2 separate regions of the Homo sapiens genome follow, and region 2 is linked to region 1. The links come from fine-mapping of genetic effects on gene expression. Tissue or cell type: sigmoid colon. Region 1 holds a variant in brackets; the other region holds the start of a gene. All regions are shown on one strand. Distances are between the middles of the regions.

Region 1 (8,107 bases):
GCTCGTATCACAGGAAACTATTGCTAAGGTAAAATCCCCGCAAAGGGCTGCGCCTCGGTTCACCCCTCCACTTGCACTTGCCCGCCCACCCTCACTCGGCCTCCGCATCGTCTCCCAAAACATTTCTCAGAATGTGCTTCCCCAGACGTCCCTCACCAGGGCGTCTGCAGATTCCCAGATCCCTGAGTCCGACTTTTTCCTTTCGGTAATTCTTAATACCCAGGAAGTCCGAGAAACAATGGTCTAGACAGTGACTCCCAATGGCTGTGGGAGTAAAGTGGAGGAGGTAGAGGGCTAGGGATAGGGAAGGCAGAAGGCAACGCGGGATCTGGGGAGAGGGGGGCTTGAGTGGTTTTGAAAACATTCAGCATGGGAATCCAGGCTCACGTTTGAGAACCACGCATCGAAGTCCAATTATTTAATAGAACAAACTGTAGCAGGCAAACTCCATGAAAACCTCCTAGGAAGGCCTAGTGACCTGCGCTCCCCCCAGGAACTTCCGCTCCTGACTCCAGGCCAGGACTGCCAGAGAACCTTGCGGCTCTTTTCCTGCTCATCGAAAGGGGGTGTGGCTTTTTAAAAGGTAGAAACACTGATCCTCAACCGTGATTCCCAAACCTGGCTGGCACAAGTCTCGCCTCTACTTTTAGCTCACTCCACGCCCTGGTTTTGGAATCACTGACATAGCCTGAAGGCTGTGGCAGGATTTGCACGATTTTCGTGGCCAGCATCTACTGTGCTCTTTTTCCCAGCCCCTCCCACCTCTGCAACTCTGGCCACTATGGTATCACTGTTACCTTTGCAGGTAACACCTGCAAAGGGCTGAGTGGAAGCCCAGGTCTCCTCACCAAAGCCCTCCGGGTCAGTGAGGCATTGAGGCCAGAGTCTGTGGCTGCGAGGAGCAGGCTAACTCCTCTGGCATGGAGGAGATGCTGAATATTATTTCTTGAAGAAATGGTCACCTGCTATTTTGTTATTTTCACCTGACCAATTCTGTGCCTGCCTGCCTGCCTGCCTGCTCTGATGGTTCAGTGGAGTTCCGATGCTCTGTCTCCAGTTAATTCCCTCAACCGTTAGAATCAAAGTAGTAGTTTTTTCATCCATCCATTTATTCACTCTTTCATGAACTTGAACCTTGTAAGATAAGGAGGGACAGCTTTGCCTGATGACTAGGAACGTGGAGGCAGGCAGGCCTGACTAATTCAGACTCAGGCTGCGTACAGGTTAACTTCTCCGAGCTTCAGTTTCCTCATCTATAAAATGGGGATAATGACAGCTCCTACTTAATGGTATTGTTGCAGGGATTAAAAGGATGATATGGCAAGTGCTTAACAGTCACCTTGTATTATTATTTCAGACACTATGCTAGAAAAAGAGATGTATAAAAAGCATATGAAGACAGGGCTCCTGGCTAGTACTTGGCAGTGAAAGCTGGTCTGAATCAGCAGGGGGCTGGGCAGGTGGGCATGAATGAATAGATAAGAACCCTTTGTAACTACCCACATCCATTTCTATGTAATCACTATGTAAAGTTCTTAAAACCAGTTCTTTATCTTACCTACATTAAATAGCCCTTCCCCACCCTTAATACTACATATACCACAAATCCTTTTGGGAAACAATTTTTCTTTTCAGAGTTAGACCAGAGGTAAATGTCAGCTGCAGCTGAATTCTCATAAAATCCAATTTAGTGGAATCTGAATGAAGTCTGTAAACTTCATAACCCATTATAAAAGATTCCCCAGGCTGGGTGCAGTGGCTCATGCCTGTAATCCCAGCACTTTGTGAGGCCGAGGCAGGTGGATCACGAGGTCAAGAGATCAAGACCATCCTGGCCAATATGGTGAAACCCCATTTCTACTAAAAATAAAAAAATTAGTCGGGCGTGGTGGCGGGCGCCTGTAGTCCTAGCTACTCGGGAGGCTGGGGCAGAAGAATCACTTGAACCCGGGAGGCAGAGGTTGCAGTGAGCCGGGATTGTGCCACTGCACTCCAGCCTGTCGACAGAGCAAGACTCCGTCTCGAAAAAAAAAACCCCCAAAACAAACCCTTATACAACAACCCTATCTAAACCAGCACCCACTCAGACCTCACCCTGCTGTTTTCTCTCCTTTACCTTCCTTTATTTTCTTCGTATCACTTATCACCATCTGTTATGTCATATGTGTATTTATCTGTTCCCTCTACTCAGATGTTAGCTCCATAAAAGGTATGGAGTACCCCCAGTGTCTAGAGCTGTGTCTGACACATAGTAGGCATTAGTAAATATTTGTGGCATGAATAAATTAGCTGATACATCATTGAAGATAGTCCAATGACCTTGCAAATTATTTACAGGTTGTAAATCTTCCTGTCCTAAGAGATCACCCGCCAAAGAGCCATCAGAAGATAATTACAGCTCTTGCCTTTATGAGATGCCTTTCTCTTTCAGCCTCTCTGGGTATCTTTCTCCAGGGCTGTGGCCCAATCTTATTTAATCACAAGATCTTAACAGATACCAACAGGATTGCAGCAGCTACTTAATCTGCCTTCCAAAAAGTGCAGTTCAGCCTCTCCCCGTATAGAGACAGCCAGCCCAAACCAGCTCAGATCATTTCAGTGTCATTGCTCTAATACAGAACTAAAAAGAAATCAGAACTGAGAGTTCTGCCCCACAGTAACATCTGCTTCTAGTTTAGATTTTTGTACAGCCTGAGAAGCTACTCCAGTGAGAAGAACCTGTTTCAATCCATGGGCTATCCTATCCTTCCTCACCAACCAACCCCAGGAGAAGAAAGACCACCTTCTCCCACTGTCACATTTACATGGGGCAAGGTCAGAAATGAGCTTTATAACTAGGAGAAATAAAAGTAATAAAAGCTTAAAGACAAGGTATTTCATATACTAGGGAATGAAAAACGTCTTATAAGCAATACCACACTTTGCCCTACCAAATTAATTTTATTCCAAACGCAGTCTTTTGTTTTTTCTAATTTAAAACAAGCTAGGGAGTTAGTACATTTCTTTTTTTTTTTGGAGACGGAGTCTCACGCCGTTGCCCAGGCTGGAGTGCAGTGGTGCAATCTCAGCTCATTGCAAGCTCCACCTCTTGAATTCAAGCGATTCTCCTGCCTCAGTCTCTGGAGTAGCTGGGATTACAGGTGCCCGCCACCATGCCTGGCTAATTTTTGTATCTTTTTTTTTTTTTTTTTTTTGAGACAGAGTCTCACTCTGTCACCCAGGCCGGAGTGCAATGGCACGGTCTCGGCTCACTGCAACCTCTGCCTTCTGCATTCAAGCGATTCTCCTACCTCAGCCTCCCGAGTAGCTGGGATTACAGGCGCTTGCCACCACACGCAGCTAATATTTGTATTTTTAGTAGAGACGGGGGTTTGCCCATGTTGGCCAGGCTGGTCTCGAACTCCTGACCTCGTGATCCACCTGCCTCGGCCTCCCAAAGTGCTAGAATTACAGGCGTGAGTCACCGTGCCCGGCCGAGAGTTAGTACATTTCACAACGTAAGCTAGGTCTTTTCCTTTTTTTATTTAATTCTATATCCTTTTCCTTTAATTCTATATTCCCCCGAACAACCTCTCACTTTCAAGTTTTAGCACCCTGGCCCTCAACCTGAACACACACACACACACACACACACACACACACACACACACACACAGAATAAACCTTGGAAAGTCTGGGCTCTGTGTAAGAGGATTTTAACATACCTATGTAAAATCCACATGCTTCCACTTAAAGAGCTGAGTGACCTTTTACAATTTAATGAACCTCTTTCAGCCACATTTTTCTCATCTGTGAGTTGAAGATCAGACTGTCTGACGGACTCATAGTTGATATAAGGATTAAATGCGATTGTAACTGAAACAGTTTTAACATCGTCCCTGACACACAGTAAACCTAGAAGAAAAGAATTAGCTATTTTGTTGTTCATCAGGAAATTGAAGTAATTTTTTCTTAATTATATCAAATTTGCCCTATATCTACTATTTATTGAGGAAGTATCACAGTCCCCATTATAAAGATTAAGAAATTTGCCAAGAGTCACCCAACCAACAAGAAGCAAAACCAAAGTTCTGTCTAATCTCATGATTGTACAGCTGGCCACATGCCCACACCTCTTACACAAGAACTGGAATACATTTCCTT[C/CT]TAGGTATATTGTCAGGCCTTTTTGTTATCTCCTTCCTACAATACGGCAAAACAGATGCCTTGCTTGAGATTTATATTCAGAAACTGTTTCTAACTTTGTTCTGCATTGGTGTGGAAGTATATATAATGGTGGTTTTGCATGCACAAGTACATGTATTTGGAGGGCAGAAAGAATACTAGACATGCAAATTCTGAGACAGATAATTATGGTCACTTTATTTCAGACATTGTAATTGTCATCTCTAGCAGTCCAAGTTAATTTTTTTAAATTATCTTCCATGTCCCTACTAGCATGCTCAAGCAATTCTCCACCTTCTTGAATCTATAGAATAGAATTCCAACACTCAGCGGGGCACGGTGGCTTATGCCTGTAATCCCAGTACTTTGGGAGGCCGAGGGGGGCGGGTCACATGAGGCCAGGAGTTCGAGACCAGCCTGGCCAAAATGGTGAAACCCCGTCTCTGGTAAAAAAAATACATAAATTAGCTGGGCATGGTGGCGTGTGCCTGTAATTCCAGCTACTCCAGAGGCTGAGGTAGGAGAATCACTTGAACCCGGAGGCGGAGGTTGCAGTAAGCTGAGATCGTGCCACTGCACTCCAGCATGGGCAACAGAGTGAGACTCTGTCTCACAAAAAATTTTTTTTAAAGAATTATAATACTTGTTTTACTGTCCATGTCTACTGATTGTGTGCCATTTCTGGGTCAGTTTCTATTGATTGTTTTCTACCTACATTAGGGAGGCAAAATCCTTCCCTATGAATTACAAGGTGTTTCCCCCGGTTGGCGGGAACATAAACTCTTTCTAGTCCTGCCTCAAGCAGTTTCCTCACTCAGTTCTCAGCTGAAGATTCAAGGGGAATTCTCTGCAAGTCTCTGAAGTGCTCTCTCTGTCTCTCCTCTCTCTTCTCTCCTCTTTCTTCTCTCTCTCTCTCTCTCTCTCTGTGTGTGTGTGTGTGTGTGTGTGTGTGTCTGTGTTTCTCTCCTCTTGGTCCACTAGTAACCTTGGCATCTTTAGACTAACCTTGGCATCTCTAGACTCCCACCTGCACCTCTCCAACTCTGGGAGACAACAAGGATCCCTTTTCTTGCATTGCAGCATGGAAATGAGTCTCTCTAGGCATTAAGCTGGGAACTCTCAGGGCTCACCTCATTTATCTCCCATCTCTTAGAGATCACTGTTCTGTGCCAGCAAAGTCCAACATCTGAAAACTACTGTTGCATGTATTTTGTTTTAGTTGTGTCAGGTGGGAGGGTAAATCTAATCCCTTAGCATAACGGAACTACAGTCAATTCCAAACTACAGTCAATTTAAGGATGAGAATTCTGAGGCCTGGAGAGGGTAAGTAACTTGCCCAGGTCACCCACTAGTAATCAGTAGAGCTGGGTCTCTAATCGGCTTCTGCCTGGCTCCAGAATCCCAACTTTCAAATACCATGCTCTCCTGCCTTCCTGTGAGCTCAGCCTTGAGTTCCACATCTCTCTACAAAATGGCATGAGCTTTGTGAGAGAGGTTTGTTTCTCTTGTGTTCTGACCTTTGTATCCTGACCCCTTTGCAGCTTAAACCCAAGTTGGAACTAGGGTGCTGTTTCAGAGAGCCGAGGTGGACAGATTCCACACTGGTGGCCCATTACCAGTGAGCTGACAGGACAGCTGCAAGGTGCTTCTTAAATGGTAAATGTCATCCACGTAGGAGCATCATAAACTCACTTGTTCACTCATTCATCCAACAAACGTTTATTTAGAGCCTACTATATGCCAGGCACTGTGCTAAGTGCTGGTCTTACGGCATTGAACAAGAGTGACATGGAGTTTACTATCCAGTAGAGAGAGAACAAATGAATAAGTAAATAGAAAAGAACATTTCAGATGGTGGTGAATGCTGAGCTACATATAGCAGGTGTGTGGACCAGCACATACCCTGAGTACTTGTCTAAAACACAATTCTAGCATGTATTTGCTCACACAGACTCCTTTTCCCATTCTTACACTCACATGAGCTCCCTAATAAGAAGGGCTTTGGAAGAATAAAACAGAGTAATAAGATAAAGAGTGACAGGGAGGGGCTGCTCTAGGCTGGATGATCAGACATGGTGAGGCCCAATGACAAGATTTTACATCTATTGCAGTTTGAGGGAAGGAGCATTCCACGCAAAGGGAACAGCAAATGCAAAAACTCTACGCAGTACCTCTTTTTTCTCCTGGGCATGTGTGTCCACGTGTGCATACACACAGACACACAAATCTGAAAACTTGTCAATATCTTTTATTTCTACATGTACAGGTTCTTGAAGATGGCACTTTTAGGAACTCAAGGGTAGGGCCAGGATGCCAACAGATCAGGGTCCCAGCCTCCACCCCTCTGAGGCTCAAGTCTACTCTCTACTTCTCAAGGTCACTGTGAAGAGCAAATGAGATGAGATATAGTCTCTTCATATATCTGGTCCATTGCAGAATATAGGCATAAGTGACTTCCTACTCAACAGTATAAAAATGCTTAAAATTTTTACCTAGGGTGGAGCTTATAAAAGGTAGCAATACACTGATATTGAGAATTAAATTTTTTTTTGTCAAAATTAGGAAGAAAAATCACTTCTATTTCAGCAGAGATAATTGATCATTCTACCTACATTTTGTTTACTATAGGTAGTCAGAGGCTTTCAGTATAACATAAAAGTCAAGTGTACAGGCCTGGATATAGATGAGCTGACTCTAACACACACCTGCTGTGTGACCTTGAGCAGGTTACTAAACCTCTCTGAGGAAAAATAGGACCCATCATATGAGGTGTGTGTGAGGATCAATTGGGGTAATGAATGCAAAGGGCTGGGCACAGCCCTTGGCACATGCTAAGTCCTCACAAAGCTATAACCATTGGCTGCCTGCAAAGGGAACTTTCATTCTTCAGCCTCTGGGAAAATCTTTCCACTCTGACATTTCCTCTAAAAAATAACATTTCATGTTCCTTATGTGACCAAGAGGCTCCTCTGTCTCCTTTCTCACCCTCATTCCCTCTGAATGGCTGGTTGGATGACTGTAAAGTGAGGAAGAGGAGAGTCCACACTGAACAAGGCAACCCGCTCCCAGTGCCTGAGGGGTGGGGAGGTGTCACTGCCCACAGGCGCTGTGAGCCTGGGACTGCCTGGGTCTAGCCCATGCGGGTGTGGGCATGGAGCCCAGCTGACCGAGGCAGCTGGGAACTGTTTGCTAATAGGCCGGGGAGCAGCAGATGCAAAGTGAGGGCTCATGTTTGCACAGGCCATCGCCATGGCAACAGGAAAGTCAACAGGCAGGACATTCCTTAAGCTGTAGAAAACCCTTCCGCCCCAACCCTGCACTTCAGGTGAGGGAAGCGGTCCCACACTGAGCAGTAAGCAGATCCTCAAAGGCCAGAACTTTAGTAGAAAAGCCAAAAAGAAAATCTGGGCCCAAAATACACAAATATTTTGAAAACACATATAGTTTATTCCCAGATGGTTAAAAAAAAAAAGTTTGTTTCTGAAATGTACAGGTAATCTGACCAAGGTGTGTGTATTGGTTAGTTGGTGGAAACTAAGCTAATGATCATGATTCCCAGCTGAGGATGGGGAGGCACACTGCTTACAAAAGAGCAGAGGCGGTGGAGGGGCAGGAAATCATGCCTTGTTCATTACAGAGCTGACGCAGGGTCGGCCTTCCACTGCAAGACAGTAAACTATGCAGTGGAATCTGCAGGATGAGAGATAATGTTCTAATTTTTAGTGAAAACACCTCCTCCAATGACCTGGCCATAGGGTCTGAAGTTCTCATCTTGTTCACTCCTTCAAGTAAGTCACTGATGGCCTTCAGTCCAAAAGTCAGTGTTACCGGGAAATTAACTATTAGCAGCTATTATAGCATCACCCGATTAATTTCTCAGAAAGTGCCTTGAAGCAGGACCTTGAAGGACTGAGCCACAGGACAGGTAAGTTTTGTACAGGAAAAG
Region 2 (8,107 bases), 39 kb after region 1:
CAGCTACTTAGGAGGCTGAGGCAGGAGAATCGCTTGAACCCAGGAGGTGGAGGTTGCAGTGAGCCGAGATCATACCATTGCACTCCAGCCTGGGTGACAGAGCGAGACTCCATCTAAAAAATAAATAAATAAATAAAAATGAAATATGCATATTCACAAAGACACGCACCACAGGGACACCCACTGCAGTACTGTTGCTAACAGGCAGTAGTTGGGACAACTTATATGTCTAGAGCAAAAGATCAAGAAGGATTCAAATCAAATTGTTCAGAGTGGTGACCCTGAAGGACTAACAGTGGGAGAGAGAAAGAATAGAAGAGGTGTGGGGAGAATTTTCACTTTTTAGTTGCATAATCCCTTCTGGGTTGTTTATCTTATGTCTACATGCATTTTTAATTTTAGAAATTAAAAATATTATATTATTTAAAATTAAAAAGTTTTTTAACAACCTGTTCTGTTTGGAGGACTGTTTGGAAGAATCATCAAGTCTCAGAGTTGAAATTGGTCTCAGAGGTCTGTGTAGTCTAATCTCAGCTAGATTCAGCTTCACAGCCTGGCTGTCCGCATGGAACTTAGGGCAGAATGGCCACCCCTGGCTCACAGGCACTCACTCCAGCCTCAATTCGGATCTGGCTCATGGAACCTGGTGTACCCGAAGGATATGAAAAATTACATAAGCGTTGTGGCTTTCATAATCTACACCTGCGCTGCTGAACATCACCAACAACCATGCACCAGGACTACAGCAACCCCCAGATCCTCCTAGTTCCTACCAGGCCCTGAGTAATTTGACAGCCTCAGAAGGGTCACTCACGGTTGAACACAACTGGGCGCTCATACCTGTAATCCCAATACTTTGGGAGGCCAAGCCAGGAGGATTGCTTGAGCCCAAGAGTTCAAGGCCAGCTTGAGAAACAGAGTGAGGCCCTGTCTCTACAAAAAAAATTAAAAATTAGCTGGGCATGGTGGTGTGTGCCTATAGTTCAGCTACTCAGGAGGCTGAGGTGGGAGGATCGCTTGAGCCCAGGAGTTCGAGACCATGATCACACCACTGACTGCACTCTTCCCTCCTGGATGGCAGGGTGAAACAGTCTCAAAAAAAAAAAAAAAAAAGAAAGAAAGAAAGAAAGGGTTTGAACACGAAAAACTGAGGTCAACTGTAAACCAGTTGGTTGTCAGTACAGCACAATCCCAAGTACAGTGTAGCTATAGCCTAATAGGGCCTCACAGTGTCTATGCGAGCTTCACCATTAACAATCACTTCCCCTGGCCATTCTTCACCGTCTTATAGTTTGAGAAGAGCTGCTTACTGCCCTGACTTTGTTTATTTACCCAAGAGGCAAAATGTTTACATATTTCTGTTAACACAGGGACTTTCTTTGATGCCGCCTTGATCTTCTGGTATGGCTTTTTCCTTTTTTTTTTTTTGAGATGGAGTCTCGTTCTATCTCCCAGGCTGGAGTGCAGTGGTGCGATCTCTGCTCACTGGAACCTCCGCCTCCCAGGCTCAAGTGATTCTCCTGCCTCAGCCTCCTGAGTAGCTGGGACTACAGGCATGGTAGGGCTTTTTCCAGTTTACCATACCCTGCCCCACTCCACACTATGAAGTGTGTCTGCCTTTGTTCCATGTTCCCTCTGATGGACAGTATTTTGCTATAAGTATCCTCAGTTCAGTCAGAACTTAATGTTACTTAATTTTACGCAGTGCTCAAAATTGGGAACACACCTGTAAAGGGTTTGCCATCACCAGGATTTTAAACCACCGACATAGACTGAAAGCAAGAAGAGTGCTGTGTTTGTTGCTATATCCCCTCCAGCACCTAAGGCAATGCATTTCACATCTTGCTGAGAGCAGCTAACTCAATACCTGGAACTAGAAAATTAGAATCTAAAAGACGGAAGGCATCTAAAGACCAGTTCCCATCATGCCACAGCTGAGAAATTGGAGACCCAGGTGGTTAAATCAGATATTGAGTTAATGTCAGCTGGAATGCAGATGTTCCTACTCTGAGTTGAGTGCCCTTTCCTCTGTCAGGTTGCTTGTTAGCTAAATGAATGAATGACTTTACCACTCGATTTGTATGAAAAAAGGAGGCCAGAAAAGAGACTAAAGTTAAATGTGTAATTGTTTGTATAGACTATATTTGCCAACTTAACTGAAGTTTTCCACTTTCAATTGATTGTTTGCATTCATTGACTTAGATATATTTTTCATCATTTAAAATGTTTCATCAATGCATACAAACTCCAGACAAATAACAAGTCAGATTTCAATATAGTATTAACTCCAATTCCTCTATAATCTATAATACTTAAATAATTACATGATCGGACTGATCCAAATATATTTTAATGTCTTTATATGTCAATGATGAAGGATGTAAAATCTTCATATTATGTCTCTATTATGTAACTGCTTCAAGAAAACAAAAAATTAATAAAACCTAACACATGTAAATAAACTCTGACATAACGTGAGTCCATGATATTCACTAGCCAGATTTTCAAACCTCATTGTCCTTTAAGAGCCCAATTTTAAGCTGGGCGTGGTAGTTTACGCCTGTAATCCCAACACTTTGGGAAGCTGAGATGGGAAGAAAGTTTGAGCAAGGGAATTATAACCAGCCTGGGCAACATAGCAAGACCCAGTCTTATTCAAAAAAATTTTTTTAAATTTTTTTTAAATCCAATTTTTGCCCTTTAGATTTTTTTTTTAACCAACCAACAATTTGCCAGCTTTTTTTTTTTTTTTTTTTTTTTTTTGAGACGGAGTCTCACTCTGTTGCCCAGGTTGGAGTGCAGTAGCATGATCTCGGCTCACTGCAACCTCCTCCTCCTGGGTTGAAGCAATCCTCCTGCCTCAGCCTCCCGAGTAGCTGGGATTATAGGCATGTGCCACCATGCCCGGCTAATTTTTGTATTTTTAGTAGAGATGGGGTTTTGCCATGTTGGCCTGGCTGGTCTCGAACTCCTGCCCTCATGTGATCCACCCACCTCAGCCTCCCAAAGTTCTGGGATTACAGGCAGAAGTCACCACACCCAGCCAGCCAGCTTTGAGTTTCATTTCTTTCATTTTCTTGCTCATCCTCAGAGAGAGAGGTTTAAGAAGAGAAATAAAGGGGAAAAACGGGAAACAGAAAGGCGAAAGGTATAGATGCCTCAGGAACTGACAGGGAGTAGCAGTCAGGCTCCTGGAAGAAACGAGAAATGTAGCAAGGCATGGTCAGGAAACACATGTCTATCCATGCTCCCACTCTCTCTGCCTTTCCCTCTCTTTCCCATCCCTCTTGCCAAGAAGTGAGTTGGCAGTCTTACCAATGACAAACAAAATAGATAAAGCCTCCACACTGAGATTTAGAAACCCCACTTTAGCCAAAACTAAGTCACTTACATCAAATTGTACCATGACACCAAGCATTCCTGTCCCCTCCCCTGCAATGGCAATCAAGTGTCATAGAAAAATAGCCTTTTAAAATTACCATGAGCCTTTTATTTTTATTTATTTTTACACCCAGGCTGGAGTGCAGTGGCGTGATCACGGCTCACTGTAGCCTCAAACTCCTGGGCTCAAGCAATCCTCCTGCCTTGGCCTCCCAAAGTTGGCTCAGGGTTGAGGAGCCACTGTGCTCAGCCAACCATGAGGTTTTTAGAGATGATCTTGTCTAAACCCTTCTCGCCTGTTTTGCAGAAAAGAAAATTGAGATCCCAGAGAAATGAAGTAACTTGCCCAAGGTCATTCAGCAGGCAAGATAGAACTAGATCCCCAAATTGCAAACTAGCTGTCCAGAGTTCTTTCCTCAATGAGCAATTTAAAAGCTACAGAATGTACAAAAAAAGCTCCCCAACAGTTTAGATATAAAAACAATTACAAAGGCACAAAAGGGCAGGAAAACTCAATAAAACTATGAACTTCACCCATCCCACCTCCCAGAAACCCAGTGACAATCAAAGCAGCGTCAGGCTGGTTCAAGGAGTAATGGTGTCTCCAACAATTTAATTGCTCTTCTTCCTCCTTTACCCATTTCTCACAGGCAGAGAAAAAATGCATCTAAGACTACTGAAACTTACTTTGAACCAATACAGATGTTTGTTGATACCTGAAATTTAGTGATTCGCAAATACGTTTTCTGCCAAGAGCTTACAGAAATCACACTCTTAGAGCTAAAACATCAGGTCATTCCATGAGTCTCAAGCCCTGGAGAAAATTAAATGCCTTCCCCAGAAACGGGTCCTCTCCCCTGTCCTGCGCAGGTAACAAACGCTGCTGGAGAGACTTGGCTTCATCAGCTGTCTAAATGCAGACTTTTCAAGAAGGTGACTCAAGAAACTAACATTCCAAAACAGGACTTCAGAAAAAGAAGAAAACTTTTTCTTACCCTTAAAAATGACAGAAACAATAGGATCCGGCTTGCCAAATTTCGTTTTAGGGATATTGCTGGCAGATTCCACAATCACTCGCAGCATGGTTCTTAGCTGGTAGAAAGCAAGTTTCAGCAAACGAAGTGGAGACTAGGGCGCTGGAGCTCCGGGTCGCACCGCCCTGGGAGAGAAGTTCTCTCCCAGTGAAGGGAGGATTTCTCCCAGGGCAAGGAAGGGGAAAAGGCAAAATGGGTGGACCTCTGGCGGATTTTACTGAAGGCAACGTGTAAACTGATACCGAACTCCCCGCGTCTACGCAGTGCCGCAGGCACAGACTTATGAATTCGGGAAATGTGGAAGTGAAAAGGACAAACCCTAAACTAAAAATAATTCCGTGCGACAAATGAAACCAACATGAATTTGGAGCTAAGAAATACGGGTAGGTCAGGAAACCACTAAAATGTTGCTGCCTTTTAGCAATGGTTCGTGAAACTGAATTAATTGATTTTTCCGTCACTGCTTTCATTCTTTTCTGAGTTTCAAGGAGTTTTAAAACTTTAGTCATTATTTGCTTTTGACTTTTCGCTGTTACTTCTCACGCCATTGAACACACCCACTCAGTAACCCTATGTTCAGCTTTTTTAAAGCAGCTAAAGGGTGCCTCTTACTGGACGGCAAACGAATGACAGCGTTTATTTCAAGTAAACGCGATCCAGGCATGGGATATATAAATAATTACATATATGTATAAATAATTATATATATATATATATATATATATATATATATATATATATATATATATATATATATATAAAGGACTGAACATAGAATTTCTTCAAAACCCCTTCAGAGGTGAGAGCTGGGCGCCTAAGTTTTCCCGGCTCTTCAAATGCTGCCAATTGCCTTCAGTGAAAATGGAGAAGTGACTCCCCACTGTTTCTGGACCTACAGCTGCCCATGGTGTCTTTCTGTCCCAGAGGGTGCATGAAGACAGTGCAGCTTGGCTGAGATCACAAGAGGCGGCCTGGGGTTAGTCAGCCAGATCTGAGTGTGAGACTCTGCCTCACCACCCTGAGCTACGTCATCTTAGCAAGTTTCTTTTCTTTTCTTTTCTTTTCTTTTTTTTTTTTGACGGAGTCTCGCTCTGTCACCAGGCTGGAGTGCAGTGTAGCGATCTTGGCTCACTGCAACCTCTGCCTCCCGGGTTCAAGCGATTCTCCTGCCTCAGTCTCCCGAGTAGCTGGGACTACAGGCGTGCGCCACCACACGCAGCTAATTTTTTTTTTTTTTGTATTTTTAGTAGAGACGGGGTTTCACCATGCTGGCAAGGATGGTCTCGATCTCTTGACCTTGTGATCCGCCCGCCTCGGCCTCCGTGGCTTGAGCTTTACTGGCTTGAGCTTTACTGGCTTGAGCCACCGTGCTGGCGAGCAAGTTTCTTAACCCCTCTCTTCCTCAGTTTCCTCATCTATGAACTGGGGATAAAGGCTGTTATAAGATAAAGGTCATAGCATAGGAGCTGGCACAAAGCACACAGTAATTTGCACATGTAAGAAGTTCATGCTTATTTGTGGTCTCACAGCGTTTCTGTTAGTGCAGGCTGACTTTAAATCAGGATCTCGTTATATTTCAGAAGAAAAGGCTAAAACTTGGGATGAAGAAACATTGGGCTTCTTTTTGCTTTAGAACACACATCAAGCAGACCCACCTGTAAATAAACATTTCAAGTACATTGAATAAGCATGACTTAACCTACAAGAATTCTTCTGTCTCCACGAGTTTCTCCAAGGCTTAAAGCAAAGAACCAATTACCCAGTGCTGTGTTCATTATTGTATTTAGTGGACATGTTGGCAGTTTTAGTGGAATATAGAGATTATTACTTTTATTTTATCTGGCTGCTTTCTATTTGCCATTTTTACTGTGAAATATATTTACAGAAAAATGCATACTACATAAACGTGACAGTTTAACAAGCATCCAGGTCAAGACAGAACATTGCCAGTCCTCCAGAAGCCCCTGGAATACCCCATATATCATATCCACCTCCTTCTCCCAGAGGTAACCACTCTCCTGATTTTTTTTTCTTTTTTTAGATGGAGTTTCACTCTTGTTGCCCAGGCTGGATTGAAGTGGGGTGATCGGCTCACTGCCACCTCCACCTCCCGGGTTCAAGCAATTCTCCTGCCTCAGCCTCCCAGGTAGCTGGGATTACAGGCGTGCACTACCACACCCGGCTAATTTTGTATTTTTAGTAGAGACAGGGTTTCACCGTGTTGGCCAGGCTGGTCTCAAACTCCTGACCTCAGGTGATCCATCCACCTCGGCCTCCCAAAGTGCTGGGATTACAGGCATGAGCCACCATGCCTGGCCCACTCTCCTGATTTTTATGGTAATGATTTCCTTGCTTTTCTTTGTAGTTTTTACCGAAAACAACAACAACAAAACAGTTTAGGTTTGCTTGCTCATGACCTTTGTTTGGTGATATAAATTCTTTTGTATGTTATGAACTTTACATACAACACATATATTCATATATATAGGTACACACATACATGTGTTCATACTTTGTGAATTCTTTGCTGTATTATGACTTTATAGAAATGGACTCATACAGAATGGATTCTTTCGTGTTTGACTTCTTTTTTCTCAGTATTATATTGTGAAATTCATTCATGTAGCTCTACTTCCTTCACTCTTGTTGCTATATGGCATTTCATTGTATGAGTTTCTGACATTTTATTTATTTATTTATTTTGAGACAGAGTCTTGCTCTGTAGCCCAGGCTGGAGTGCAGTGGTGCGATCTCGTTTCACTGCAACCTCTGCCTCCCGGGTTCAAGCAATTCTCCTGCCTCAGCCTCCTGAGTAGCTGGGATTACAGGTGCACACCACCACGCCCGGCTAATTTTTGTATCTTTAGTAGAGATGGGGTGTCACCATGTTGGCCAGGATGTTCTCGAACTCTTTACCTCGTGATCCGCCTGCCTCAGCCTCCCAAAGTGCTGGGATTACAGGCATGAGCCACTGCGCCTGGCCTCCAGATTTGATTAATTCATTCTACTACTGCCAGACATTTGGACAGTTCAGGGAATGGGGCTATTACAAACAGTGCTGTTCTGAACAGTCCAAGACTGTTCTGGCACAAATGTGCATGAGTCTATTTAGAGTCTAATCTATGGGTGGAATTGCTTGCTGGGCCAGAGAATGTATGCATTTCTTCACCTTTACAAGGTAATTCCAAATTATATTCCACAATGGTACTCTTGCCAGCAGTGTATGAGACTTCCTGTTGTTCTAAATTTTTGTCATACTTAACCAATGTTAGATTTTTTACATTTGCCCTTCTGGTGAGCATATAATAGCATCTCACTGGAGTTTTAATTTGCCTTTTACCTATTCATGTGGGAGAAAAAGACAAATGACTTCCAACCTTACATAATACATAATCAATTACAGGTGGAGTATAAATCTAAATAAGCAAGATAAAACATGTTTCAGCCCAGACACAGTGGTTCATACCTGTAATCTCAACACTTTGGGGAGGCTGAGGTGAGTCTGAGACCAGCCTGGGCAACATAGTGAGACCCTGCCTCTAAAAAAAATTTTTTAAATTAATCGAGTGTGGTGGCATGCACCTGTGGTCCCAGCTACTTGAAAGGCTGAGGTGGGACAACCACTTGAGCCTGGGAAGTCCTGGTGGCAGTGAGCCATGATTGTGCCACTATACTCCAACCTGGGTAACAGA

What was found. PIP is the estimated chance that this variant, and not a neighbour inherited with it, causes the effect.
Region 2: it holds the start of MYOF, and the variant in region 1 is fine-mapped to the expression of MYOF in sigmoid colon (GTEx, PIP above 0.99).

Annotation. Positions count from the first base shown.
Region 1 is chr10:93,438,388-93,446,494 of GRCh38, forward strand. All of the region lies in intron 3 of MYOF (myoferlin), which reads right to left. Among named protein-coding and RNA genes, the nearest start is that of MYOF, 40 kb to the right of the region's middle. The variant C/CT (reference allele first, on the strand shown) is at 4,144.
Region 2 is chr10:93,477,731-93,485,837 of GRCh38, forward strand. MYOF (myoferlin) reads right to left here and starts at 4,604. Exons shown (of 54, transcript NM_013451.4): 1 at 4,377-4,604. The coding sequence starts at 4,464.